7 linked regions of the Homo sapiens genome follow. The protein of the gene in region 1 interacts with the protein of each later gene in a biochemical or structural test. Each region holds a gene or a part of one and is shown in the gene's direction. Other genes may lie near its edges. The genes, in order: VANGL1, FRMPD3, SIPA1L2, LIMK2, LDB3, ARHGEF11 and TJP3.

Evidence for each region.
Region 2: the proteins of VANGL1 (region 1) and FRMPD3 interact in a test that uses a peptide from one of them, tested with the Homo sapiens proteins (one large-scale study listed by IntAct).
Region 3: the proteins of VANGL1 (region 1) and SIPA1L2 interact in a test that uses a peptide from one of them, tested with the Homo sapiens proteins (one large-scale study listed by IntAct).
Region 4: the proteins of VANGL1 (region 1) and LIMK2 interact in a test that uses a peptide from one of them, tested with the Homo sapiens proteins (one large-scale study listed by IntAct).
Region 5: the proteins of VANGL1 (region 1) and LDB3 interact in a test that uses a peptide from one of them, tested with the Homo sapiens proteins (one large-scale study listed by IntAct).
Region 6: the proteins of VANGL1 (region 1) and ARHGEF11 interact in a test that uses a peptide from one of them, tested with the Homo sapiens proteins (one large-scale study listed by IntAct).
Region 7: the proteins of VANGL1 (region 1) and TJP3 interact in a test that uses a peptide from one of them, tested with the Homo sapiens proteins (one large-scale study listed by IntAct).

The regions. Positions count from the first base shown.
Region 1 is NC_000001.11:115,662,470-115,665,969, forward strand, and holds part of VANGL1 (vang-like protein 1), read left to right. Parts: intron 1-1,191; coding exon 1,192-1,799; intron 1,800-3,500.
Region 2 is NC_000023.11:107,592,652-107,596,151, forward strand, and holds part of FRMPD3 (FERM and PDZ domain-containing protein 3), read left to right. Parts: intron 1-3,500.
Region 3 is NC_000001.11:232,508,134-232,511,633, reverse strand, and holds part of SIPA1L2 (signal-induced proliferation-associated 1-like protein 2), read left to right. Parts: intron 1-3,500.
Region 4 is NC_000022.11:31,267,798-31,271,297, forward strand, and holds part of LIMK2 (LIM domain kinase 2), read left to right. Parts: coding exon 1-110; intron 111-346; coding exon 347-403; intron 404-3,338; coding exon 3,339-3,404; intron 3,405-3,500. UniProt on the Homo sapiens protein: Serine/threonine-protein kinase that plays an essential role in the regulation of actin filament dynamics. Acts downstream of several Rho family GTPase signal transduction pathways.
Region 5 is NC_000010.11:86,717,011-86,720,510, forward strand, and holds part of LDB3 (LIM domain-binding protein 3), read left to right. Parts: intron 1-953; coding exon 954-1,134; intron 1,135-1,716; coding exon 1,717-1,837; intron 1,838-3,500. UniProt on the Homo sapiens protein: May function as an adapter in striated muscle to couple protein kinase C-mediated signaling via its LIM domains to the cytoskeleton.
Region 6 is NC_000001.11:156,934,340-156,937,742, reverse strand, and holds the end of ARHGEF11 (rho guanine nucleotide exchange factor 11), read left to right. Parts: intron 1-246; coding exon 247-494; intron 495-737; coding exon 738-927; intron 928-1,498; exon of another isoform or gene 1,499-1,612; intron 1,613-1,684; coding exon 1,685-1,743; 3' UTR 1,744-2,903; downstream 2,904-3,403. UniProt on the Homo sapiens protein: May play a role in the regulation of RhoA GTPase by guanine nucleotide-binding alpha-12 (GNA12) and alpha-13 (GNA13). Acts as guanine nucleotide exchange factor (GEF) for RhoA GTPase and may act as GTPase-activating protein (GAP) for GNA12 and GNA13.
Region 7 is NC_000019.10:3,725,384-3,728,883, forward strand, and holds part of TJP3 (tight junction protein ZO-3), read left to right. Parts: intron 1-3,040; coding exon of another isoform or gene 3,041-3,049; coding exon 3,050-3,097; intron 3,098-3,220; coding exon 3,221-3,330; intron 3,331-3,500. UniProt on the Homo sapiens protein: TJP1, TJP2, and TJP3 are closely related scaffolding proteins that link tight junction (TJ) transmembrane proteins such as claudins, junctional adhesion molecules, and occludin to the actin cytoskeleton.

The DNA.
Region 1 (3,500 bases):
TTTAAACAACAAAATCCTTTAAAATTCTATCAACTGGGTTTTGCTAAGTGAATAGACTAATTGCTTTAACTAGCAACGGCCTAGAAGTTTAAAAAGAGAGGAAGCTAGAAAGTAAAAGATAACATTTTAATAATCCTGGTTGTTTCTATGCCCTTGATGTTTAGTTCCTCGTGAAAACATGTTTTAGAAAGAATTTTTAAGCCAATCTGGCCATACACGGATTCCTGGATTTGCTTAGCTTGGTCCATGAGAAATATTGTTAAAGAGTGCTTGACACTGATGCTTGTTAAGTGGATCTTGTGAACATCATAAGGAGATTTTTTTTTTTTTTTTTTGAGACGGAGTCTCACTCTGTAGCCCAGGCTGGAGTACAGTGGCACGATCTCAGCTCACTGCAACCTCCGACTCCCGGGTTCAAGCGATTCTCCTGCCTCAGCCTCCTGAGTAGCTGGGATTACAGGCATGTGCCACCACGCCTTGCTAATTTTTGTATTTTTAGTAGAGACGGGGTTTCACCATGTTGGCCAGGATGTTCTTGATCTCCTGACCTCCTGATCCGTCCGCCTCGGCCTTCCAAAGTACGGGGATTACAGGTGTGAGCCACCGCGCCCCAGTCCATAAAGAGATTTTAAAATGTGGGTCCTAGCTACAGGTAAGCTTGGGTTTGTGTAGTGGTGTAAGTTCCCTTGCTACGCCCTTTGCTCTTCTGGGCTGCTAGAGGGTGTAGTAATACTCCCACCTCCAAAAGTTGGACTTCGTAAGCCTTTATAACCCAGCGTGAATTGGAAAGAAGATGCAGGAGGTTTATCTCTATAGATGAGCTCTCACAAGATTAGTCTAATACCTGGGTTGCGCATTGCAGGGCAAACAGCTCCAGGCCCTCAGAGCTGCTCAAGGCTTTTCAACCCAGGGGATGATAATCAATGTTATGTCAATGAATCAGCCAAACAGACAGAAAGATCACATTATGTTTTCTCTGTTTGAAAAGGTAAATACCTCATACATTTTGAAAATTTCAATGAAAATCGTTTGAGTTAAGAAGTTCTAATATTTAAAGAGTTAAGCTTTCATTTTCTGGAAGCCTTTGTGAATAGGGCTGGGTAGATGCAGCGGGCCCTGCATGTTCACTGCCCTTTGTAGCTTTTACAAATGACCTGTGTCATGTCATCCTCACTGTCTTCTCCCCACCAGGATGACAACTGGGGAGAGACCACCACGGCCATCACAGGCACCTCGGAGCACAGCATATCCCAAGAGGACATTGCCAGGATCAGCAAGGACATGGAGGACAGCGTGGGGCTGGATTGCAAACGCTACCTGGGCCTCACCGTCGCCTCTTTTCTTGGACTTCTAGTTTTCCTCACCCCTATTGCCTTCATCCTTTTACCTCCGATCCTGTGGAGGGATGAGCTGGAGCCTTGTGGCACAATTTGTGAGGGGCTCTTTATCTCCATGGCATTCAAACTCCTCATTCTGCTCATAGGGACCTGGGCACTTTTTTTCCGCAAGCGGAGAGCTGACATGCCACGGGTGTTTGTGTTTCGTGCCCTTTTGTTGGTCCTCATCTTTCTCTTTGTGGTTTCCTATTGGCTTTTTTACGGGGTCCGCATTTTGGACTCTCGGGACCGGAATTACCAGGGCATTGTGCAATATGCAGTCTCCCTTGTGGATGCCCTCCTCTTCATCCATTACCTGGCCATCGTCCTGCTGGAGCTCAGGCAGCTGCAGCCCATGTTCACGCTGCAGGTGGTCCGCTCCACCGATGGCGAGTCCCGCTTCTACAGCCTGGGACACCTGAGGTAAGAGGCAACATCCAGGAGGCAGAAAGGATGGCTGATGTCTTGCTGGGAGACAGCTGCTCTGTAGCACGTGAGGGGTGGTGACAGATGCCAAGAGCTAGGACCAGAGTCTGACTCTTTTCTGGTTTGGGGAGGAGATGCGAGGGTGGGGAGGGTGTCCATGTTCATTGAGTTTCTGGACTTCTAGATGGTGCGGGGCAGTTGCTGGCTCTCACCCAGGTTGAGATTTTGCTGGGCTTGTTCTCAAAGTTATTGGCAGCTCCCAAAAATGATGGAGAAAGGAGATGCATAGTGATGGCTGCCTTCTTTGACTCTGAAATTGGCCAATGGACAACAGATAAAGTGACCAGCAGCTCCATTTTGTCCCAAATGTGACATCTGGTTTACCATGTTGTCCCAGTGGAATAATGAATTGTTCCTTTTTTCCCACTCTCAGAGGCCTGGTTTGGGCAGTAAATTATATGGTCATCCGAGGGACCCTCCAATAAAGAATCAAGTGCAGGTTAGAGACTCCAAATGTGTAATCCTTGAGTGTTGTGAAAATGTATGCGTGAGAAAAAGTTAGAAGTCAGTTGGGTTGTCATACTTACATCTCTGCATAAAATCTCATTATTTTGTGGTTAAATAAGAGTGATTACCATCATTTTATTTGCTTCAAGGTAAGCACTTTATATATAGATTGTGTATTTAGTCTTCATAGAACCCCGTGACCTAGGTATTATTAATCCCTGTGTCACAGATGAAGAAACTAGGGCTTAGGGGATTTAAGTAATTTGCACAAAAACATATGGCTAGCCTCATTTAGGATTCACTCAGATGTCATGAGGCCAGGGCTGAGTGAATGCCCCCATAATGGCATCTCTCACTTTGTGGTTAGTGGCCTATTTTTCCATCTGTTTTCTTCCACAGACTATGAACTCCCTGAGGCCAGGGGCCACCCTTATACCTCATTACATCCTCAGTGCCTGGCATGGAGCATGGCTTGCACTGAGATGTTCTCTGGGTGAATGCAGAGCCTGGGACATTTGACTTCAAAGCCTTTACCCTCTCCCAGGCTCTCTGCCTCCTTAGGCAGTATATGCTGATGTGTGTAGCCTGCTTGGGGCAGGGTAGGCACTTAGTTCATTGCAGCTATTACTGCTGTGATCATGTAGCTGGCAGAGCAGCCAGAATCAGCAAGGGCACACCTTAGTGGGTATCAGAACAATCGGCTTTGTCATAGATTTGGCTGGGCTCCAGGAAGGTGGCTCAGCCTGTATTTGGAGTCAGGCCATGCTGCCAAACCATCTTCATGTTGGTGTGTACCCTCCTCCATTCCTCTGGCTTGGCTTGTGCTACGAGAACGGGATGATCTAGCGTTCAAGGTTGCTGCCACCCTAACTGATCCTTGGTGGAAACTGGTGTCCAAGTCACATGTCTGTGCACCAAAAATCTGGGGTTTAGAGTCCTTCACAGATGCCTGTAGGGCTCTGAAGACAAGTAGGTCACCGCTTTGCTGCATATTCATCTCAGAAGGCTTTCTTTTCCCATGTTTTGCATCAGGGAATGACCAGCAGTTTTGTGTTAAACATCTGCTGTGTGCAGAGCCCTGGACACACCAGGCTGGCTGCCTTCAGAGCTCTATCTCAGCACCTGTGGCACTCACAGTCACTTGGAAAGAGACCAGTGCACCGCTGTCTGGTGGACAGGTGCAGAAACAGG
Region 2 (3,500 bases), on another chromosome or scaffold:
TTTTAGTTTTTTAAGGAATCTCCATACTGTTTTCCATAGTGGTTGTACTAGTTTACATTCCCACCAGCAGTGTAAAAGTGTTCCTTTTCACCATATCCACACCAACACATATTTTTTTTTTATTTTTAAATTATGACCATTCTTTTTTTTTTTTTTTTTTTTTGACAGAGTCTTGTTCTGTCACCCAGGATGGAGTGCAGTGGCACAACCTCCACCTTCCGTGTTCAAGCCATTCTCCTGGCTCAGCCTCTTGAGTAGCTGGGATTACGGGCATGCACCACCATGCCTGGCTAATTTTTGTATTTTAGTAGAGACGGAGTTTCACCATGTTGGTCAGGCTGGTCTCGAACTCCTGACCTTGTGATCTGCCCACCTCAGCTTCCCAAAGTGCTGGGATTACAGGCATGTGCTATCGCGCCCAGCCATTATGGTGAATTCTTGTAGGAGTAAGGTGATATTGCATTGTAATTTTGATTTGCATTTCCCTGATAATTAGTGATGTTGCACATTTTTCCCTATGCTCGGCCATTTGTATACCTTCTTTTGAGAATTGTCTATTCATGTCCTTAGCCAACTTCTTGGTGGGATTGTTTGTTTTTTTCTTGCTGATTTGTTTGAGCTCCTTGTAGATTCTGGATATTAGTCCTTTGTTGGATGCATAGTTTGCAAAGATTTTCTCCCACTCTGTGGGTTGTCTGTTTACTCTGTTGACTGTACCTTTTGCTGTGCAAAAGCTCTTTAGTTTAATTAAGTCCCAACTATTTATCTTTATTTTTATTGCTTTTGCTTTTGGGTTCCTGGTCATGAAATCCTTGTGTAAGCCAATGTCTAGTAGGGGTTTTCCAATGTTATCTTTTAGAACTTTTATGGTTTCAGGTCTTAGATTTAAGTCCTTAATCCCTCTTGAGTTAATTTTTGTGCAATGTGAGAGATGAGGATCCAGTTTCATTCTCCTACATGGGGCTAGCCAGTTGTCCCAACACCATTTGTTGAAAAGGGTGTCCTTTCCCCACTTTATGTTTTTGTTTGCTCTGTCGAAGATCAGTTGGTTGTAAGTATTTGGGTTTATTTTTGGGTTCTCTATTCTGTTCCATTGGCCTATGTACCTATTTTTATACCAGTACCATGCCTCGTAGTATAGTTTGAAATCTGATAATGTGATGCCTCCAGATTTGTTCTTTTGCTTAGGATTGCTTTTGCTATGCGGGCTCTTTTTTGGTTCCATATAAATTTTAGGATTTTTTTTTCTAGTTCTGTGAAAAATGATGATGGCATTTTGATGGGAATAGCGTTGAATTTGCAGATCGCTTTTAGCAGTATGGTCATTTTCACAATATTGATTGCACACACCCATGAGCATAGGCTGTGTTTTCATTTGTTTGTGTCATCTGTGATTTCTTTCAGCAGTGTTTTGTAGTTTTCCTTGTAGAGGTCTTTCACCTCCTTGGTGTTTTATTTTTTTTGCAGCTATTGTAAGAAGGGTGAAGTTCTTGATTTGATTCTCAGCATGGTCACTGTTGGTGTATAGCAGTGCTACTGATTTGTGTACATTGATTTTGTATCCTGAAACTTTAATGAATTCATCTATCAGATCTAGGAGCTTTTTGGATGAGTCTTCAGCATTTTCTAAGTATATGATCATATCATCTGTGAACAGTGACAATTCGACTTCCTCTTTACCAGTTTGGATGCCCTTTATTTATTTCTCTTGTCTGATTACTCTGGCTCTTTTAGTTATTTTTAAAAGTACAATTAAGTTATTATTGACGGTAGTCACCCTATTGCGTTATCAAATAGTAGGTCTTATTCATTCTTTCTACTTAGTTTGCTCTTGTTTTTCTGGTTTCTTAAGGTAGAAGTGGAAGTTTATGGTAATTCATATGAAATCTTTCCTCTTTTTTAACGTAGGCACTTTCAGCTACAGATTTCCCCTTTAAGAACTATTTTAGGCCGGGCGCGGTGGCTCACGCCTATAATCCCAGCACTCTGGGAGGCTGAGGTAGGCAGATTACTTGAGGTCAGGAGTTCGAGACCAGCCTGACCAACATGGTGAAACCCCATCTCTACTAAACATACAAAATTAACCAGACATGGTGGCACATGCTTATAATCCCAGCTACTTGGGAGGCTGAGGCAGGAGAATCGCTTGAACCCGGGAGGTGGAGGTTGCAGTGAGCTGAGTTCGTGCCATTGCACTCCACCCTGGGCAATAAGAGCAAAACTCCATCTCAAAAAATAAATTAATAAAAAATTTAAAAAAACGACTTTAGCTAGATCCCATAAATTTTGGTATGTGGTATTTTCATTTTTATTCATCTCAAAGTATTTTCTAATTTCTCTTGTGATTTTTTTCCTTGACAGCCTGGTTATTTAAGAGTGTTTTGGCTGGGCACGGTTGCTCATGCCTGTAATCCCAGCATTTTGGGAGGCTGAGGCAGGCAGATCACTTGAGGCCAGGATTTTGAGACCAGCCTGGCCAACATGGTGAAACCTCATGTCTACCAAAAATACAAAAATTAGCTGGGCGTGGTGGCAGGTGTCTGTAATCCCAGCTACTTGGGAGGCTGAGGCGGGAGGATCACTTCAGCCCAGGAGGTGAAGGTTGCAGTGAGCCAAGATTGCACCACTACACTCCAACCTAGGTGACAGAGCAAGACCCTGTATCAAAAAAAAAAAAAAGTGTTTTGTTTGATTTCTACTTGTGAATTTCCCAGACTCCCTTCTGTTACTGATTTCTAATTTAATTATGTTGTGCTCAGAAAATATATTTTGTATGATTTTATTCCTTTTAAATCTAGTAAGGCTTATTTTATATCCTAACATACGGTTTATTCACAACAGTGTTCCATATGCACTTAAGAATAATGTATATTCTGCTGCTGTTAAGTAGATGGTTCTATAGATTTCGGTTAGGTCTAGTTTGATTTATAGTATTGTTCAGGTCCTCTGTTTCCTTGTTGATATTCTGCTTAGTTGTTTTATCCATTATTGAAAGTGGAGTATTGGCCGGGTGCGGTGGGTCACGCCTGTAATCCCTGCATTTGGGAGGCCAGGGCAGGTGGATCACTTGAGGTCAGGAGTTTGAGACCAGCCTGGCCAACATGGTGAAACCCCGCCTCTACCAAAAACACAAAAAATTAGTCGGGCGTGGTGGCAGGCGCCTGTAATCCTGGCTACTCGGGAGGCTGAGGCAGGAGAATCACTTGAACCCAGGAGGCAGAGGCTGCAGTGAGCCGAGGTCGCACCACTGGACTCTAGCCCAGGCAACGGAGTGAGACTCCGTCTCAAAAAAAAAAAAAAAGAAAAGAAAAGAAAAGAAAGAAAGTAGAGTATTGAAGTCTCCTACTACTGTTGTTGAATTGTGTATTTTTCCCTTCAATTCTGTCAGTTTTTTCTTCCTGTATTTGGGAGTTTTGTTGTTAGGTGCCAGTGCTGTACTTTTGTCATAGATGTAATCTCTAGTGAAAGGCAACACTGGCATATTGACTCTGTCAAACTGG
Region 3 (3,500 bases), about 120 Mb from region 1:
CCACTTCAGTCCCTTATAACGTTAAACCACTGTGAAGCCTGTTTATTACTTTTTCTCATGGAGTATAGACTTAAAAGAATTTGTCTGCCAGATAAATTGTGATTATTAATAATTCCCCCTCCTGTTTTTGCATCAATCCAGACTTAGCATGTCTTTTGTAATCACATTATGACAACATGAATCAGAGAAATGATCTGATGCAATAAAGCTAAATAAACAGATATTTACACTGCATCTGGTCACTTAGTGTGAATTGTCTCTCTGTCCTCATACTGATGACATAATAGGACTGAAATAGTTTTGTCAACAGATCTTGGTCCCCTGTTGTGTCTCCTTTCCTCTCCTCCACCCTGAATTTCGGTCTTGGCTTCAGGTGTGCCTCAGTGTTAACACCATAGTTACTTCCTTCCAGCCAGTGGAATCAAAGAATCCTGGACCTGCTTTTTTGTCTCTGCTGTGAAAATAACTCATAACCCTCATGCCCGTGTTCATGCAGAGGTATCACATTATATCACACTGCTCAAGGATGCTCTCTAGGTGGAAGTTAGTTATTTTTGGAAAGGGAGATGGAGAGATAGGCTTCCTAATTAAGGTTATTTTTATTGATGAAGCCATGGCTGCCAATTCTTAATAAAATAAAGTCTGTTGGATTTATTATGCCCTGAAATCCCCAGGTAATTAGTCATTCTGGCTAGCTGAGTTTTGTAAATAGTTTGTGATTCAGACTTTGAAATACTAGAACATAAAATTATATATATGTTCATATTTATGCCAAAACTTAGTGCCAGCGTCTCATTCATATGCTGTTGCACATGTCTGAGTGTAAGTGGAATGAAAAACTGTTGTTTTGTGCACCCCGGTCACCACCATTTGATTCATTAATGTCCCCAGGGTCTGTTCCCCGAGATGATTTTAGGTTGCTAGATTCTGTTAGTTTTCTTGACTGCTACTTGTAGTTTTTCTCTTGAATTCTCAACTGTCACTTCTTGGTAGTTTTAAAGACTCCTCTGCAAGTGATTTATTTCCTCCACCTTTTCTGATGAGCTACTTAGTTTTTCAAGAGCATTGCAAATGACATCATCAAACTGCTTAGGTTTGAATGTGAAATAAATAAGCTCCAAAGAAGAATCTGAGTGTAGACACCCTGTCAGTGAATTGTGGGTGGATGTACGCTTATCGTTTGGCATTTTGGTGCTGTTGGGCACACTCTCTGGTTCTGAGCTTTGCAGTGGATTTATAAACGAGTCAGAAAGCAGAATTCTAGACTATAGTCACGCATCAGTTAACAACAGGGATATGGTCTGAGAAATGTGTTATTAGGCAATTTCGTCATTGCGTGAACATCATAGAGTATACTTACACAATCCTAGATATATATCTTTATTCATATATATATATATATTTTCATATTGAAAACCAAATGTCCCAGCACCATTACTGAATATCAGACATTTCCCCTTATTCATCTGCACTGCCAATATCAAGTGCCATGCATCAGATTTCTGTATATGCTCCATCATGATTTTATGGGACCACCGTCATGTATGTGGTCCATTGTTGACCGAAATATCCCTATGCGGTACATGACTGTGCTTTGCAAAGCCCACAAAATGAGGGAGTGGGGAGGCAATCCGTGAGGTCACTTTGTCTTCAGTGTTCTGTGATTCTGTGCTGTGGAAGGTGCTGTTGTGCCTGCAGATGGGCTCGGGCTGGGGAAGGAGCGGCCACCAGGAGCGAGAAGAAGGCCGAGCCCCGGCTGCTCTGTTCTCTCTCCAGCGCAGCTGTGAACTGTGTCCTGCCTCCTCCTATATTTAGCTCTTCCCCTGTGGTCCAGTGTGACTTCAAAGTGAAATTGGTTACAATGGCATCTGCTCCTGCTCTTGCTGGTCTCTTGTTGAGCCATTAAGGACTCCAGGCAGAGGCAGCAGCCCAGATTCTTAAGTGAAAAGTACAGTGAGGTGGAGGCCTCCTATGGTGTGGGAGTAGATTCCCATTCCCGCTTCAGCCACTGGACACAGTTGTGCAAGACCCTTCTGTCTGCAAACATCATGAGTTGGGTGAGCTTCATTGTATTTAAAAACAGAGGGCCTGGGCAGACTGGCACAGATAACGATGTTTTTGAGATAGCTTTTTTCTTTCCCTTTTTTGCTTTTCCCTTCTCTCAAGGATTTTCTCTTTGGAAACTGACTTTCAGGGATCTATCTTTCAATACTTTCCAGAGTGCTTTTATTTTGTTCTGTGCTTCAGGGTTCTGTGTAAAACTTCATTTTCAAGAGAATTAACTGGCTCCCAATCATGGCAAATGTTTAAAGTGCGATACTTTAATAATGTGATTTCTTCTTTATTGGGTAGTTAATGTGAAATGTCTGCTTTTGATGCTGAGGTGTATTTCTGTGACACATCATCACTGAAAGGCTGTTGAATAACTTTGTGAAAGGATTTCTGCAGGGGAGTGGCAGGACACAGGAAACTGTGTGACAACATCGCTTGCCCAGGCAAATCCATCTGTAGCTTTCAGTGAAATAGCTTTTCTTTTTTCTTGAAGACAGAGTCTCGCTCTGTTGCCCAGGCTGGCGTGCAGTGGCGCAATCTTGGCTCACTGCAACCTCTGCCTCCCGGGTTCAAGCAATTCTCCTGCCTCAGCCTCCCAAGTAGCTGGGATTACAGACATGTGCCACCACGCCCGGCTAATTTTTGTATTTTTAGTAGAGATGGGGTTTCGCCGTGTTGGCCAGGCTGGTCTCGAACGCCTGTCTTCAGGTGATCCACCCACCTCAGCCTCCCAGAGTGCTGGGATTACAGGCGTGAGCCACCGCACCCAGCCAAAACAGCTTTTTTAAAAGCAGTGAGGATAGTAGCAAGTAGAGTGAATGCCCAATAAGTCCCTTCCTTTCACGGGCGATAACCATGAAGACACATTGGTGCCGTTTGTCACATTACTGTTTCTCTGATGGGACTCATTGTGAATGTGCCATTTGCTGCTGCTTTGAGCTTTGCATTTGTGAAACAGGCTGTGACAAAGGGTCCCTTAGATAGGGATTCTAGTTGTGCTTGACCACGGTCAGTCATGTGAGCATCAGTGAGTCTGGTTTCCATTGTAGCAGAGCAGCAGGCTTTGCCTCCTTCTGGACCTGCTTGGCACTGCACACTGCCACCAACAGTGGGGCCAGTGCTGGAACTGTGTGGCAGAGCCCAGACACTGTGTGTTGACACGTGAGGTCTCCCCCGCTTGGTGACGAAATCCTTAACTTGTTAAGAAGTTGTGCACCTAGTGGGTTACTCAGGAGTTCTAAAACGGTTCTGTGCCCTACTTTATGCCACCCAGACCAGAATAGTTCTAGGAGGCAAAGTGAGTAATATTTGGGTAAAGAGAGGTTAAAACCAGATGGGAGGATGAAGCTGGGCCTCCGTGGTGACTCAGGAGTGAAGTGAAAAGTGGCTAAATCATTGTCTGAGCCTTCGGGAACGTTGTTTTGCTAGAGCCATTCTGCTGGCACAGG
Region 4 (3,500 bases), on another chromosome or scaffold:
ACCACCCCAATGTGCTCAAGTTCATTGGTGTGCTGTACAAGGATAAGAAGCTGAACCTCCTGACAGAGTACATTGAGGGGGGCACACTGAAGGACTTTCTGCGCAGTATGGTGAGCACACCACCCCATAGTCTCCAGGAGCCTTGGTGGGTTGTCAGACACCTATGCTATCACTACCCTAGGAGCTTAAAGGGCAGAGGGGCCCTGCTTTGCCTCCAAAGGACCATGCTGGGTGGGACTGAGCATACACAGGGAGGCTTCACTGGGAGACCACATTGACCCATGGGGCCTGGACCACGAGTGGGACAGGGCTCAACAGCCTCTGAAAATCATTCCCCATTCTGCAGGATCCGTTCCCCTGGCAGCAGAAGGTCAGGTTTGCCAAAGGAATCGCCTCCGGAATGGTGAGTCCCACCAACAAACCTGCCAGCAGGGCGAGAGTAGGGAGAGGTGTGAGAATTGTGGGCTTCACTGGAAGGTAGAGACCCCTTCCTATGCAACTTGTGTGGGCTGGGTCAGCAGCTATTCATTGAGTTTGTCTGTGTCACTGAAACTGACCCCAGCCAACTGTTCTCAGTTCACAGCCCTGTTTTCAAAGAATTACACATCTCTAAAGGCAAACAGGGCACGGACAAGGCAAACTGGAGAGGCAAACTGTAGCCTGAGATGGCCTGGGCTTGCCATCACAGGTATTCAGGTGCTGAGGGCCCTTAGACCAACTAGAGCACCTCACTGCCTAGGAAATCAATGAAGGGGAAATGAGTTCTAGCGGAGCCCTGAAGGATCAGAATTGGATAAAGTTCTTATTGGCAGAGAGGCACCAGGATTGAAGTGACAGGAGCAAAGACCTGGGAGGAAAGAGGAGAAAATCATCTATTTCACCTGGAAACAAATGATTCCAAGCATAGAAATAATAACAGCTGACAAGTACTGAGTGCCCTCTATATGCTAGGCACTGGGCTGAGGGATTAACATGCATGTGCATGTTTATTCCTCATGACAACCTTGGTTTCCAGATAAGCTGGACTGGAAAGGGACAGAGCTGGGATCCTGGGCTAATCAGTCTGGTCGCCAAGCCTGAGACTTTAGCCACTGCCCTTCACATGGGGGTCCATGAAAATAGTAGTAGTCTGGAACAGTTTGGGGGTACATCAAGGTCGCTGTGTTTTAAGCTATGGAGTCTGGACTATAGGAGACAAATGTAAAAGAGTTTTTTGGTTGACTGGCTTTTTGGTTTTTTTGTTTGTTTGTTTGTTTGTTTTTTTGTTTTTTTTTCCTGTTTCTGGGGCTTGAATCAGGAAGGAGGTTTTTTTGTTGTTGTTGTTTTGAGAAAGGATATTGCTCTGTTGCCCAGACTGGAGTGCAGTGGCACGATCATGGCTCACTACAGCTTCGACCTCCTGGGCTCAAGCAATCCTCCTGCCTTAGCCTCCCAAGTAGCTGGACTACAGGTGTGTACCACCACACCTAATTTTTTGAATTTTTTTTTCTTTTTTTTTTTTTTTTTTTTTGGTAGAGACAGGTTCTCACTTTGTTGCCCAGGCTGATCTCAAACTCCTGGGCTCAAGCATTCCTCCTGCCTCGCCCTCCCAAAGTGTTGGGATTACAGTTGTGAGCCACCATGCCCGGCAGGAAAAGATTTTTAAGCAAGAAAGCTTAAGAGCTGTGGTTTTTCCAAAATGAGTCTGGGCTGGCACAGTGGCTCATGCCTGTAATCCCAGCACTTTTTTGGGAGGCCGAGGTGAGTGGATCACTTGAGGTCAGGAGTTTGAGACCAGCCTGGCCAACTGGTGAAACCCTGTTTCTACTAAAGAAAAAAATGCAAAAATTAGCTGGGCGTGGTGGTGCACGCCTGTAGTCCCAGCTACTCAGGAGGCCGAGGCAGGAGAATAGCTTGAACCTGGGAGGCAGAAGTTGCAGTGAGCCAAGATCACACCACTGCATTCCAGCCTGGGTGACAGAGTGAGACTTCATCTCAAAAAAAAAAAAAAAGAGAGACTGATATGGTTAGTACATTGGGGTGGAATGCGGAGGGTCCAGGGAATGGAGCCCTGCATAGGGGGCTAATGAAACATTTCAAATTTCTGAATTAAGGTAGTGGCTGTGGGGACAGGAGCCTGGGAGGCCGGGTGGAGTCAGAATGGAGAGACTGGTTGGCAATGAGGGAACAGGAGGAGGAGGAGGAGGAGTTACGAGTGGCTTGAGGTGTCACTTACCAGACATTTGGGGGATGGGGGATAGCCATGATTGTTGAGCAACTGGTTTGGGAAGAGCTAGCATTGATCCCTGCTGTTCTGTGCTAGCAGAACCTATCAGCATCTTCTGGGCAGGAAACTGGCTCCATGAGACTGGCTTAGGGAGAGGCTGCTAGTCACCTAATCTGCAGAGAAGGGGCAGCTGGAGCTGTGGGACAGAAGAGGCATCCATGTAGCTGGTGGGGGTGTCTCAGCTTGTGAAGAGGAGATGGCTTTGAGCAGGGCTGACACTGAAAAGGCTGGAAGAAAAAAACAGACACACAAGAGTCTCAGGATCAGGTAGCATAGGAAAGTTGTGGACAGTCTTTGAGGAGCACTCCCTCAGGCAGGCAGGCAGGCAGGTCATGAGCTATAGCGATTCAGGAAGAGCTCCCTGGGTGTGTGAGCAGCTCCAGGAGCCTAAGGGATGAAAGTAGTATTGCAGGGGGCTGGAGAGCAAGGAGTGGCTCCTTCTACATTTGCAAGGGAAGGAGAAAGGAAGTTGCTCCTGAGAGTGGTAAGAGTCAGTGGTGGAGGCCTGGAGAGGAGACATAACAAACAAATTTGTTGACAAACATTTTGGTAGGAAGGGGGAGAGCTTAAAGTTTAGACAGTGGGGAAGGTGGAGTCTTAGAGGAGGTGAATGTCTGAAAGACAGAGCTAGCTGGAGCAAGAAGTCACTTCTCTGTTGCAGGCAGGAAGGATCCAAAGTGGCTCAAGCCAGAGATTGGGAGAGTGGGGAGGAGGGAGCAGCCTGGATCTAAGTAAAATGGGTAGAGGTGGAGGGGGTGCTGCAACGGCCAGGGTTTTCTGAAGTTGGGGACATTAGGAGAGAGCTGTGAGGGCTTTGGCCAGCCACTGTGCTAGTGATTGGTGAACCAAAGGATGGGCAGGAGATGGCAGCAGGGAAGCAGAGGAAGTCCAGGCTTCCTGTTGGTATTGGGACAAGGGAGAGGCCATAGGAGGCCCTGGCCCTGTTGTCCAGGTTGGGTTCTGAAGCTGGGTGGGCATGGCCTGGTAGGAGAGCATCTATGGCGCCCAATTCCAGATTCAGGGTCTAGTTGATTTGCTGGCCCTGTAGCCTCAGCTCATGCTTCTGTTCCAGGCCTATTTGCACTCTATGTGCATCATCCACCGGGATCTGAACTCGCACAACTGCCTCATCAAGTTGGTATGTCCCACTGCTCTGGGCCTGGCCTCCAGGGTCCTATCCTTCCTGGCTTCCTTGTCACAAAGGAGGCTGACTTGTCCCCTCTGGCTAGAGGGC
Region 5 (3,500 bases), on another chromosome or scaffold:
CCAGCAGGATGCCTGGTGCCAGGAACTCCCCCTTGGGCTAAGGTTGAGGTCTGGGAATCACCAGGCTTGTCAGTAGGTTTACAGGGCATTTTGTTAGACAGTGTTGGTTTTGACCCAGTTTTCCTTTAGGGTTGTTTCTGGGTCTTTCCACAGACAGGCCTGGGCTGCTCAGGGGGTTGGTGGGCATCTGCCAGACTAAAATGAAAACAAGTGATTTCATACTTAGAAGCCATGGACCATGGGTGCTGTTGTTTGAATACAGTATGTTTGTGTGCATGTGTGGTGTGAGCTTATATACGTGAAAAATACACTTTTATTTAAAACTAAAGTAATACATACTCATTAGTGAAGAATTGGAAAACACAGAAAAGTAAAAATTAGAATATAAAAAAATGTCTTCATAGTCCCACTGTTCTGACTGCTAACCTGGAACTAGACAATACAAGTTTGTATCCTGGTCTACCACTTACTAGCCCTATGGCCTTAAACAAGTTGTTCAAACTCTGTGTGCCTCAATTCCCCTATCTAAAAATGGGTATTATAATAGTACCTAGTGCGTAGGATTGTTGTGAGAATTAAGCAAGTTAATAAATGCAAAAGTCTTCTTGAATAGAGCCTGACACAGAGTAATCACTTAATAAATGTTAGCCATCAGCATCATCATTATTGCATTTCTTACTATCATTATCAGTGGTCAACTGAATTCTATAATATGTTTACCCAGTCCCCTATTGGTAGATGTTTGAGTTGCTTCCTGATTTTCTTTATTGTAAGTGATGCAACAATGAACACCTTTCTGCATGGAGCTTTCTCTGAATTTCACATTACTTCATCAGAACAGTCACAAAAGTCAGAGTTATTGGGTAAAAGTATAAACAGTGTTGGGGTTCTTCAAATATCTAATTCCAAGTTCTGGGAGCTGCCTTACTGGGTGCCATTCTGTGCTTCCCCAGGGGCCCATTTCTGGTAGCCATGGGCCGTTCTTGGCACCCTGAAGAGTTCACCTGTGCCTACTGCAAGACTTCCCTGGCAGATGTGTGCTTTGTGGAAGAGCAGAACAACGTTTACTGTGAGCGATGTTATGAGCAATTCTTTGCCCCGCTGTGTGCCAAGTGCAACACCAAAATTATGGGGGTAAGTGGGAGGCCTCCATTTCCTCTGACCCATGTCTCTTCCCCAGCCCTTCCCCAAGATCGTGGGATCCCATTAGGAAGCCAAGAAGTTGCTGGTAACAGAGAAAGCAACTCCATTTTTATCCTAAAAGGGAATTGGTTTGCCACCAATAAACTTGGGGATAAATGAACTTGATGCAAGAGATGATTGTGTGCCTGTTCCACACAGCTTGAAGTGGTGGTGGAACTTCTGCAAAGCAAGTGGTTGCTTCACAGCCTGACCTTACCACTCACCAGAATGTGGCCTTAACCCTCAATGCCCCTTTGGTAAATGACAGTAATAAGCAGTACCTCCTCCCAGGTTTAATGGGAGGATTAAGCCTCACAGTTTATGTAAGAAAGCACAGAACCTGGCACCCAGCTGGAGAGTGACAACCCCTTCTCTGACACCCCTGGGTCTTTCTTCAGAGTGACCAAGGCCTGCATCCTGAGATCTCCTGCCCTGTTCCCTGGTAGGATGCTCGGGCAGTGGCTGGAGCCTGGTGGGGTAGTCAAGCCCGCTCCCTCTCTCCTTTCTGTCCTGAGCTTAGGCTCTTTCCCCCAGGAAGTAATGCATGCCTTGAGACAGACATGGCACACCACCTGCTTCGTCTGTGCGGCCTGCAAGAAGCCTTTTGGGAACAGCCTCTTCCACATGGAAGACGGGGAGCCCTACTGCGAGAAAGGTAGGAACACTTCGATGGCATGTGGGGAGGCCCCACAGCCTGGGAGAAAGGGGCAGGCACAGGGAACTAACTCCTGCCTAATCCATTCACATCCGACCACCCAGAGGCCTTTATTTCTGGAAGAAACCTTTGTTTTTGCTTTTAATGGCAGAATCATGCTAATATCACACAAAGGAAGTTAACTATCTCCCCTGCCCATATGGTTGCAGCTTTGGGGAGAGTGAGGTGCAGAGTCTATAGCTTATTTTATGCATCAAATATGTGGATCTGGTTAGGTGAGGTGGCTCACACCTTAATCCCAGCACTTTGGGAGGCCGAGACAGAAGAATTGCTTGAGCCCAGGAGTTTGACACCAGCAACATAGCAAGACCCAGTCTCTACAAAAAATATAAACATTAGCCAGGTGTGGTGGCGCGTGCCTGTAGTCTCAGCTACGCAGGAGGCTGAAGTGGGAGGGTCGCTTGAGTCCAGGAGTTCGAGGCTGCAGTAACCTGTGATAGCACCACTGTATTCAGCCTAGGCAACAGAGTAAGATCCTGTATCTCAAAAAAAAAAAAAAATGTAGATCACAAGTTGGCATCTTATGACCACTGGGAAACCTTTCAGGTTATTTTGATTTGGAGACCACAAGGTCTAGTCTGAAAAGGCCTTGGCTGTGGACTTTGTCCTTCATTCTATTCCTGGTTCCACTTTGGGCTGCTTTGTAAACCTGAGCAAGTTACTAACCTTCTCTGAGCCTTACTTTCCTCGTCTGTAAACACCTGCCTTACAGAGCTGTGGTGAGGATTAAACCAGAGAAGGCGTGTAGAGCATCAAATATGCGAGACCCCTTCCTCTGCCCCTGTGATATTTATCAGACTTTGATGTTCCTGCAGATTCCTGTAATCTCACGGAGTGAATTCAGAGTTTCTCTGTACCCCCAAAATGCTATATGTTATCTTAAAATGCTAAGTAAATTATTGTAAATTCAAGAGACAAAGCACTTCATTAGATAGGTGGAAGTCAGTCACTCATTTATTCAGAGGCTTCCCCCTTCAGAAAGGATTTGAAGCAGGTTCCAGAAAAGGTAACACAGACATGAAGGCTAAGACAGTAGAACCAGAAAATCAGAGGCGGGAAAAGCAGGCATGCTGATTATGAAGAATAACAGAGCTGCAGGGACTAACTGGGTAGCAAATTTGAGGGCAAAAAGAGAAACACAGTAAGTTAGTTTACTTTAAAATCAGAAAGGAGAAAACATTCAGTTCCTCAAGGGAAAAAGCAAAACAAAATAAAACTTCTTTCCCCTGACTGTAAATTAGAAAATAAACGTTTTGGCTGGGCGCGGTGGCTCACGCCTGTAATCCCAGCACTTTGAGAGGCCAAGGCAGGCGAATCACCTGAGGTCAGGAGTTCAAGACCAGCCTGGCCAAAATGGTGAAACCCCATCTCTACAAAAATACGAAAATTAGCCGAGCATGATGGCGGGCGTCTGTAATCCCAGCTACTCGGGAGGCTGAGGTTGAAGAATCGCTTGAACCCGGGAGGCAGAGGTTGCAGTGAGCTGAGATACTGCCGTTGCACTCCAGCCTGGGCAACACAGTAAGACTCCATCTGAAAAAAAAAAGAAAGAAAGAAAAGAAACGTCTTGGGTTCTTGTACTAGTGAATGCCCTTCCCAGCTC
Region 6 (3,403 bases), about 41 Mb from region 1:
CTTGAGTTCATCGCTCAGCATCTCCCCCAGCTTGGGGCCAGACTGAGCAAGTGTCATCTAGAAGGTCTCGGGAGCAGGGCTTTTAGGGGGCTGGCAGACAGTGAGCAAGGCCCACGTTCTCTGAGTTTGTCTGGAGAGGACTGCCTGGCCTGCTCTGTCAGGTGGCTGGGGAATCCCACAGGAACGGGAGGATAGCTTCGACTTCTCTGTTTGCCTCCTGATCTCATTCTCTTACTGTGGGGACAGGGAACTGCTTTTATGTCAGCATGCCATCAGGACCCCCGGACTCAAGCACCGACCACTCAGAGGCACCCATGAGCCCCCCTCAGCCTGACAGCCTCCCTGCAGGGCAGACAGAGCCTCAGCCTCAGCTGCAGGGAGGCAACGATGATCCAAGACGCCCCAGCCGCTCTCCTCCAAGCCTGGCCCTCAGGGACGTGGGCATGATCTTCCATACCATTGAGCAGCTCACTCTCAAGCTCAACAGGCTCAAGGTGAGGGAAGCAGGGCTTGGGTCCCTGCAGGCCTTCAGTCCATCACCCCAAAACCATTCCCCATGAGTGAGATGTGTGTCTTCGCGGGAGCCCTAGATCCTGTCCTGGCCCAGGGATCTTCCCCCAGCCCGCCCAGCCACCCTTAAATCACACCCTCCTCCCCAAGGCCCAGCACAGACCCCTTCCCCAGGGGCCTTAGGAATAGAAGGACTCGAGCAGACATTCCCCCGCCGACTCTTCCAGGATATGGAGCTGGCCCACAGAGAGCTGCTCAAGTCCCTTGGGGGAGAGTCATCTGGTGGCACCACGCCTGTGGGCAGTTTCCACACAGAAGCAGCTAGATGGACAGATGGCTCCCTCTCACCTCCCGCTAAGGAGCCCCTAGCTTCTGACTCCAGGAACAGCCATGAACTGGGGCCCTGCCCTGAGGATGGTGAGTGAAGCCAGGTCCCTCTCGGTTCCTACCATTGGGGGAGAAGTCTGCCAACTCGTGAGGACACATCACTAAGCAGTGAGAGATGGTGGTTCTGAGAGTGGTTTCCCCTTGAGTGAAACGAGTTCATTCTCTCAGCTTCAGAGAGGGATCTTTTTAGGGAAGTCCCACAGAAGCTCCCTGGCAAAATGGGGAGCTTAGCACTGAGCCCTCTTTTTCCTTGTGCTATGGAGGTAACAAACCAGGAGGAGCCTGTTCTCACCTCTAAGACTTGTTCTTTTTTTAATTTTATATATATATATATATATATATATATATTTTTTTTTTTTTTTTTTCTATTTATTTGAGACAAGGGCTGGCCTGGCTATGTTGCCCAGGCTGGTCTCAAACTCCTGGGCCGAAGTGATCCACCCACCTCAGCCTCCAAAGCAGCTGGGATTGCAGGTGCACACCATGGTGTCGGCCTAAGACTCGTGCTGATTAAATGATTCAGAACCACACTGGGTGGGCCAGGGACACAGCTATGTCATAACTCAGGAAGACAAGGCACATACCTACCTGACCTAAGGGCTTTAGGCGCTGATGAAAGTGGAGTTCAGTAGACAGCCCTTTTCAAGCCCTACGAGAAACTGGGGTTTCTGGAGGAGAAGGAAGGTGATGAAGGATCTGTTCTCGTGAGCCTGAACTTTCTAGACAAAACATGTGGAAGCGGTCACCTCAGGCTGGCCAGTTCCTCACCTTCATCCTCCTCCCACAGGCTCTGACGCCCCCCTGGAAGACAGCACAGCAGACGCAGCCGCGTCACCAGGACCATAACCGTACAAACCACCAAATCCTCTGCGTCCCCACTCCTCCTTCAGGGACTGGCCTGAGACCGGGGCACAGGGTAGGGGGGATCCCAACACTCCTCCCTGTGGAGGAGGCAGTTAGGGAAACTAGGATCCAGCCAAGGCCCGGGGGGAGACCCGCATGTTGCTTGGTCTGCTCAAGTCGGAGTCAGGTTTCAGTGTCTTTTCCCTCCCTTAGCCCAACCCTCCAAGGCCTCATGTCTCCTAAGCATGCTGACTGCATCCGAAAGGCCCCCACTCACCATGGTCTGCCCTCACCCCACATATGTGTGTACACGCGCACGCCTGTATGTGCGCTGCCCTCAGACATGCAAGTGAAAGGAGGAGGCTTCTGTGTAAATGCACTTTCTTCCTCCCCTCTTTCTCCATAAGACCCCAGGCAGAGGTGGGTGCCTCCCCTCCCCTCTTTGTCACTTTGGTTTCCTATAAATATGTATGTATCGTATGTGCATCTTTGCTATTGTAAATAACTTTGACCTTTTTTGTTCCTGTTCCTGAAGTGCTGGAGGCAGTTATGGAAGGAGCTGCTTAGGGAAGAGGGGTTTCACTTGTATCTCCTTAGTTAACAACCCAGTTCCAGGATCGAGCCTAAAGCGGGAGCCAGGCCTGAGTGTTCCTGTCCCTGTGAGTGGGAAGGTCTTCTGGCTCCCCATCCCACCTGGCTCCAGAGCCTGCCCTCCACAGCTTGCTGCCAAGCTACTCCCTCCCTCCCTGGACTTCTCATCTTCACAAGATGGGGATCATGGGGGTTTCTTACCCCACCTATGTCCCCCTCTTCCCCACCCTGTCCCTGTAGAAAACCAGTGAAGCAGGTACGGAGCTGAGGACTGGGCCCCAGGAGGTGGGGACAGGGGTCTGAATGCCGAGTCCCTGAATTCACCCAGGACCATCCAAGGGGCCACCGCAGCATTGGCCCCATCACCACGTCCTCACCCAACTCTCCCTGATGAATAGAATATACACACTGTGCTAGGTGTATATATACATATATATATATATAAATATATATATAATATATAAAATATAGATATGGAAATGACTGTTCTGCTGTTAAGATAATGTATACTCTTTTATTTTCTTCCTTTCATGGTTAAGATTTTTTTTTTAAGAAAAGTTAAATATCCTTCAGTGGTGGTGTGTGTGTTTCTTGGAATCGCTGTGATAAAAGGTACGGTGTTTGTTCCCTGTAAGACTGGTTAGGATTGGATAGTGGGAACCAGAGGGAGCCCTCTCACCCCCAGACCCAGATCTTGCCTGTTCCCTCCCAGAGCTTCAGCTGTGCACTCACTGAACTAGGGACTGGGCAAACTTAAGTTGTACAACCCCCATGGAGAAAACATGACAAGACACTGAACTCAGTTACACACACACAGATATATATATAGATACATATATATACACACATATATAGATATACACACACACACACATATATATACACATATATGTGTATATAAAGGAGCAGTGGACCCAGAGTCAAGAGGTCTCATGAGCTGCCCTCAATGAGCTTGAAGACTTTAAAAGCCAAATCTAAGTGGGAGGGTTGCCTCAGGCCTGGCCAGTTCATCACTGTCATCATCCATCCACATCCTCCCACAGACGCAGCCACATCACCAAGACTGTAACCA
Region 7 (3,500 bases), on another chromosome or scaffold:
TTTTAATCTCACCTCTAAAGTAGGAATAATAACTGTGCCACTTCCTAAGGTCACTCTGAGGATGAAATGAATGGGTCCACATCAAGCGCCTGCTTGCAGCCAGGTTCAAGACAGCCTGACCAACATGGTGAAACCCCGTCTCTACTAAAAATACAAAAAGTAGCTGGCTGTGGTTGTGGGTGCCTATAATCCCAGCTACTCGGGAGGCTGAGTCAGGAGAATAACTTGAACCCAGGAGGTGGAGGTTGCAGTGAGCCGAGACTACGCCATTGCACTCCAGCCTGGGCAACAAGAGCAAAAAACCCCATCTCAAAAAAAAAAAAAAAAACTACACAAGGAGAAAGTCATTATTTGGCCACCACCTCCCCAAGGCTCCTTCTGCTTTTTGCTTTTCAGGCATTGAATCTGTACCCTTTTCCCAAACCACATCCCTGCAAGACAGGGCAGCAGTGCCATTTCACAGATGGGGAGACTGAGGCTGGGAGAGGCCCCGCCATAGCTAGCACGGGTGGGCAGACTTGGGATTTGAGTCCAGTCCTGAGCGCTGCCCTGGCTCCTTCAGAACTGCAGAGCCCTGCCCTCTGCTCTGTTTCTCTCCCCTCCACCCGCCTTCCCACTCCTGGAGATCAGGAATGCTGGCCTCGCTAGAGACGCTGGAGCTTATAAGAAAAGGCACTGGAGCGCACCAATGGGGGGTGCCTGGGCAGAGGGAATCACACACCCGCTGTGCCAAGCCTAGAAAACCCGCCCCGGGGAGGAGGAGGAGTCACTTCTACAAACTCCCTCCCCACTCCCTCCACCTGTCCCCTGCCTGGGGAGCAGGGCATGGTGCGTGCTGGCAGGAGGGAAGGGAGGGTGGAGGCGTGGCCAGGTGACCTTGCACCTGAGTCTGGTGTTCTCATTCATGCCATGGACATGAAAATAACAGAATCTGCCTGGTGTGGAGGCTCACGCCTGTAATCCCAGCACTTTGGGAGGCCAAGGCGGGCGGATCACTTGAAGTCAGGAGTTCAAGATCAGCCTGGCCAACATGGTGAGACCCCCGTCTCTATTAAAAATACAAAAATTAGCTGGGCATGGTGGTAGACACCTGTGATCCCAGCTACTTGGGAGGCTGAGGCAGGAGAATCGCTTGAAACTAGGAGGCAGAGGTTGCAGTGAGCCAAGTTGGCACCATTGCACTCCAGCCTCAGCAACAGAGTTTTTTTTGTTTTTTTTTTTTCTAAGTGGGAAAGCCCAGGTGGGAGGATCATTTGAGCCCAGGAGTTCAAGAAGAGTCTGGGCAACACAGCAAGACCCTCCTGTCTCTATAAAAATAGAAGTTAAAAAATTAGCTGGGCATGATGGTATGCACCTATAGTCCCAGTTACTCAGGAGGCTGGGGCAGGAGGATTGCTTGAAGCCAGGAGTTCGAGGCTGCAGTGAGCCATAATGGCTCACACTTGTAATCCCAGCACTTTGGGAGGCCAAGGCTGGAGAATCACTTGAGCCTAGGAGTTTGAGACCAGCCTTGGCAACACAGAGAGACTCCATCTCTACAAACAATAAAAAAAATTAGCCGGGCATCGTGATGTGTGCCTGTGGTCCCAGTTACTTGGGAGGCAGAGGTGGGAGGATCACTTGAGCCTGGGAGTTCGAGGCTGCATTGAACCGTGATCACACCACTGCACTCCAGCCTGAGTGACAGAGACCCTGTCTAAAAAAAAAAAAGTGTGGGAGGGGGGACTTCATGGCTCTGTGCCTCAGTTTCCTCATCTGTAACATGGGGATAATTGAATGCACCTTTGATGAATGTATTAAATGAGATAGTACATGTAAGGCTGGGCGCGGTGGCTCATGCCTGTAATCCCAGCACTTTGGAAGGCCAAGGGGGTGGATCACAAGATCAGGAGTTCGAGACCAGCCTGGCCAACATAGTGAAACCCCGTCTCTACTAAAAATTCAAAAAAATTAGCTGGGCATGGTGGCACATGCCTGTAGTCCCAGATACTTGGGATGCTGAGGCAGGAGAATCACTTGAACCTGGAAGGCGGAGGTTGCAGTGAGCCAAGATCACGCCATTGCACTCCAGCCTGGGCAACAAGAGCGAAACTCTGTCTCAAAAAAAAAAAAAAAAAAAGAGATAGTACATGTAAAGCACCTGGCACAAAGGAAGTGTTTCATTCATTCACTCATTAATTCATTCAGCAAATCCTTCTTGAATCCCTGCTGCAACTCAGGCGCTGTTCTAGGCAGGGAACTGAGGGCTCAGTTTTGGACAAAGACAAAAATCTCTGCCCTCTGTGGGTGGATCAGTTGAGGTCAGGAGTTTGAGACCAGCCTGGCCAACATGGTGAAATCCCGTCTCTACTAAAAATAGAAAAATTAGCCTGGCGTGGTGGTGGGCACCTGTAGGTGCCCAGCTACTCAGGAGCCCAGCTACTCAGGAGGCCAGTAGGCAGCCAGCTACTCAGGAGGCTGAGGCAGGAGAATCACTTGAACTTGGGAGGCAGAGACTGCAGTGAGCAGAGATTGTGCCACTGCACTCCAGCCTGGGCAACAGAATGAGACTCCGCCTCAAAAAAAACAAAACAAGGCTGGGCACAGTGACTCACCCCTGTAATCCCAGCACTTTGGGAGGCCGAGGTGGGTGGATCACTTGAGGCCAGAAGTTAAAGGCCAGTCTGGCCAATGTGGTGAAACCCTATCTCTATTAAAAATATAAAGATTAGCCAGGTGTGGTGGTGCACCCCTGTAATCCCAGCTACCTGGGAGGCTGAGGCAGGAGAATCGCTTGAACCCGGGAGGTGGAGGTTGCAGTGAGCTGAGATCGTGCCACTGCACTCCAGCCTGGGCGACAGAGCCAGACTCTGTCTCAAAAAATGAAACAAAACAAAAAAACAAACAAAAAAACCTGAGGCCCTGAGAGAGGTAGTAACTTGTCACAGGCTCCAAACACAGGCCTGTCAGAGCTGGACTCCCCACCCTGAGCTGGGGACCCCCAAGTGCTCAGATGAACCTGTGTGGCCTCATGCCCATCTTCCCCGCTCCCCTCGACCAGGTGGCTGACATGGAGGAGCTGACCATCTGGGAACAGCACACGGCCACACTGTCCAAGGTGAGGCCTCCCTCTCCCTGTCTGGGTGCCAGAGAGTATGGCGGCTTAGGCCCAGCTCAATAGAGGGGAGACCCTTTACCCTGGGGGAAACAGCAGCTCTTCCTTCCCCTCATCCTCTCTCAGGACCCCCGCCGGGGCTTTGGCATTGCGATCTCTGGAGGCCGAGACCGGCCCGGTGGATCCATGGTTGTATCTGACGTGGTACCTGGAGGGCCGGCGGAGGGCAGGCTACAGTGAGTATCCAGGCAGCTGGGTTCTGGCGGGGGAGGGCACGTGGAGAGGAGAAACCAGGCCAGGCACAGTGACTCACACCCGTCATCCCAGCACTTTGCGAGGCTGAAGTGGGCGGATCACCTGAGTTCAGGAGTTTGAGACCAGCCTGGCCAACATGGTGAAACCCCGT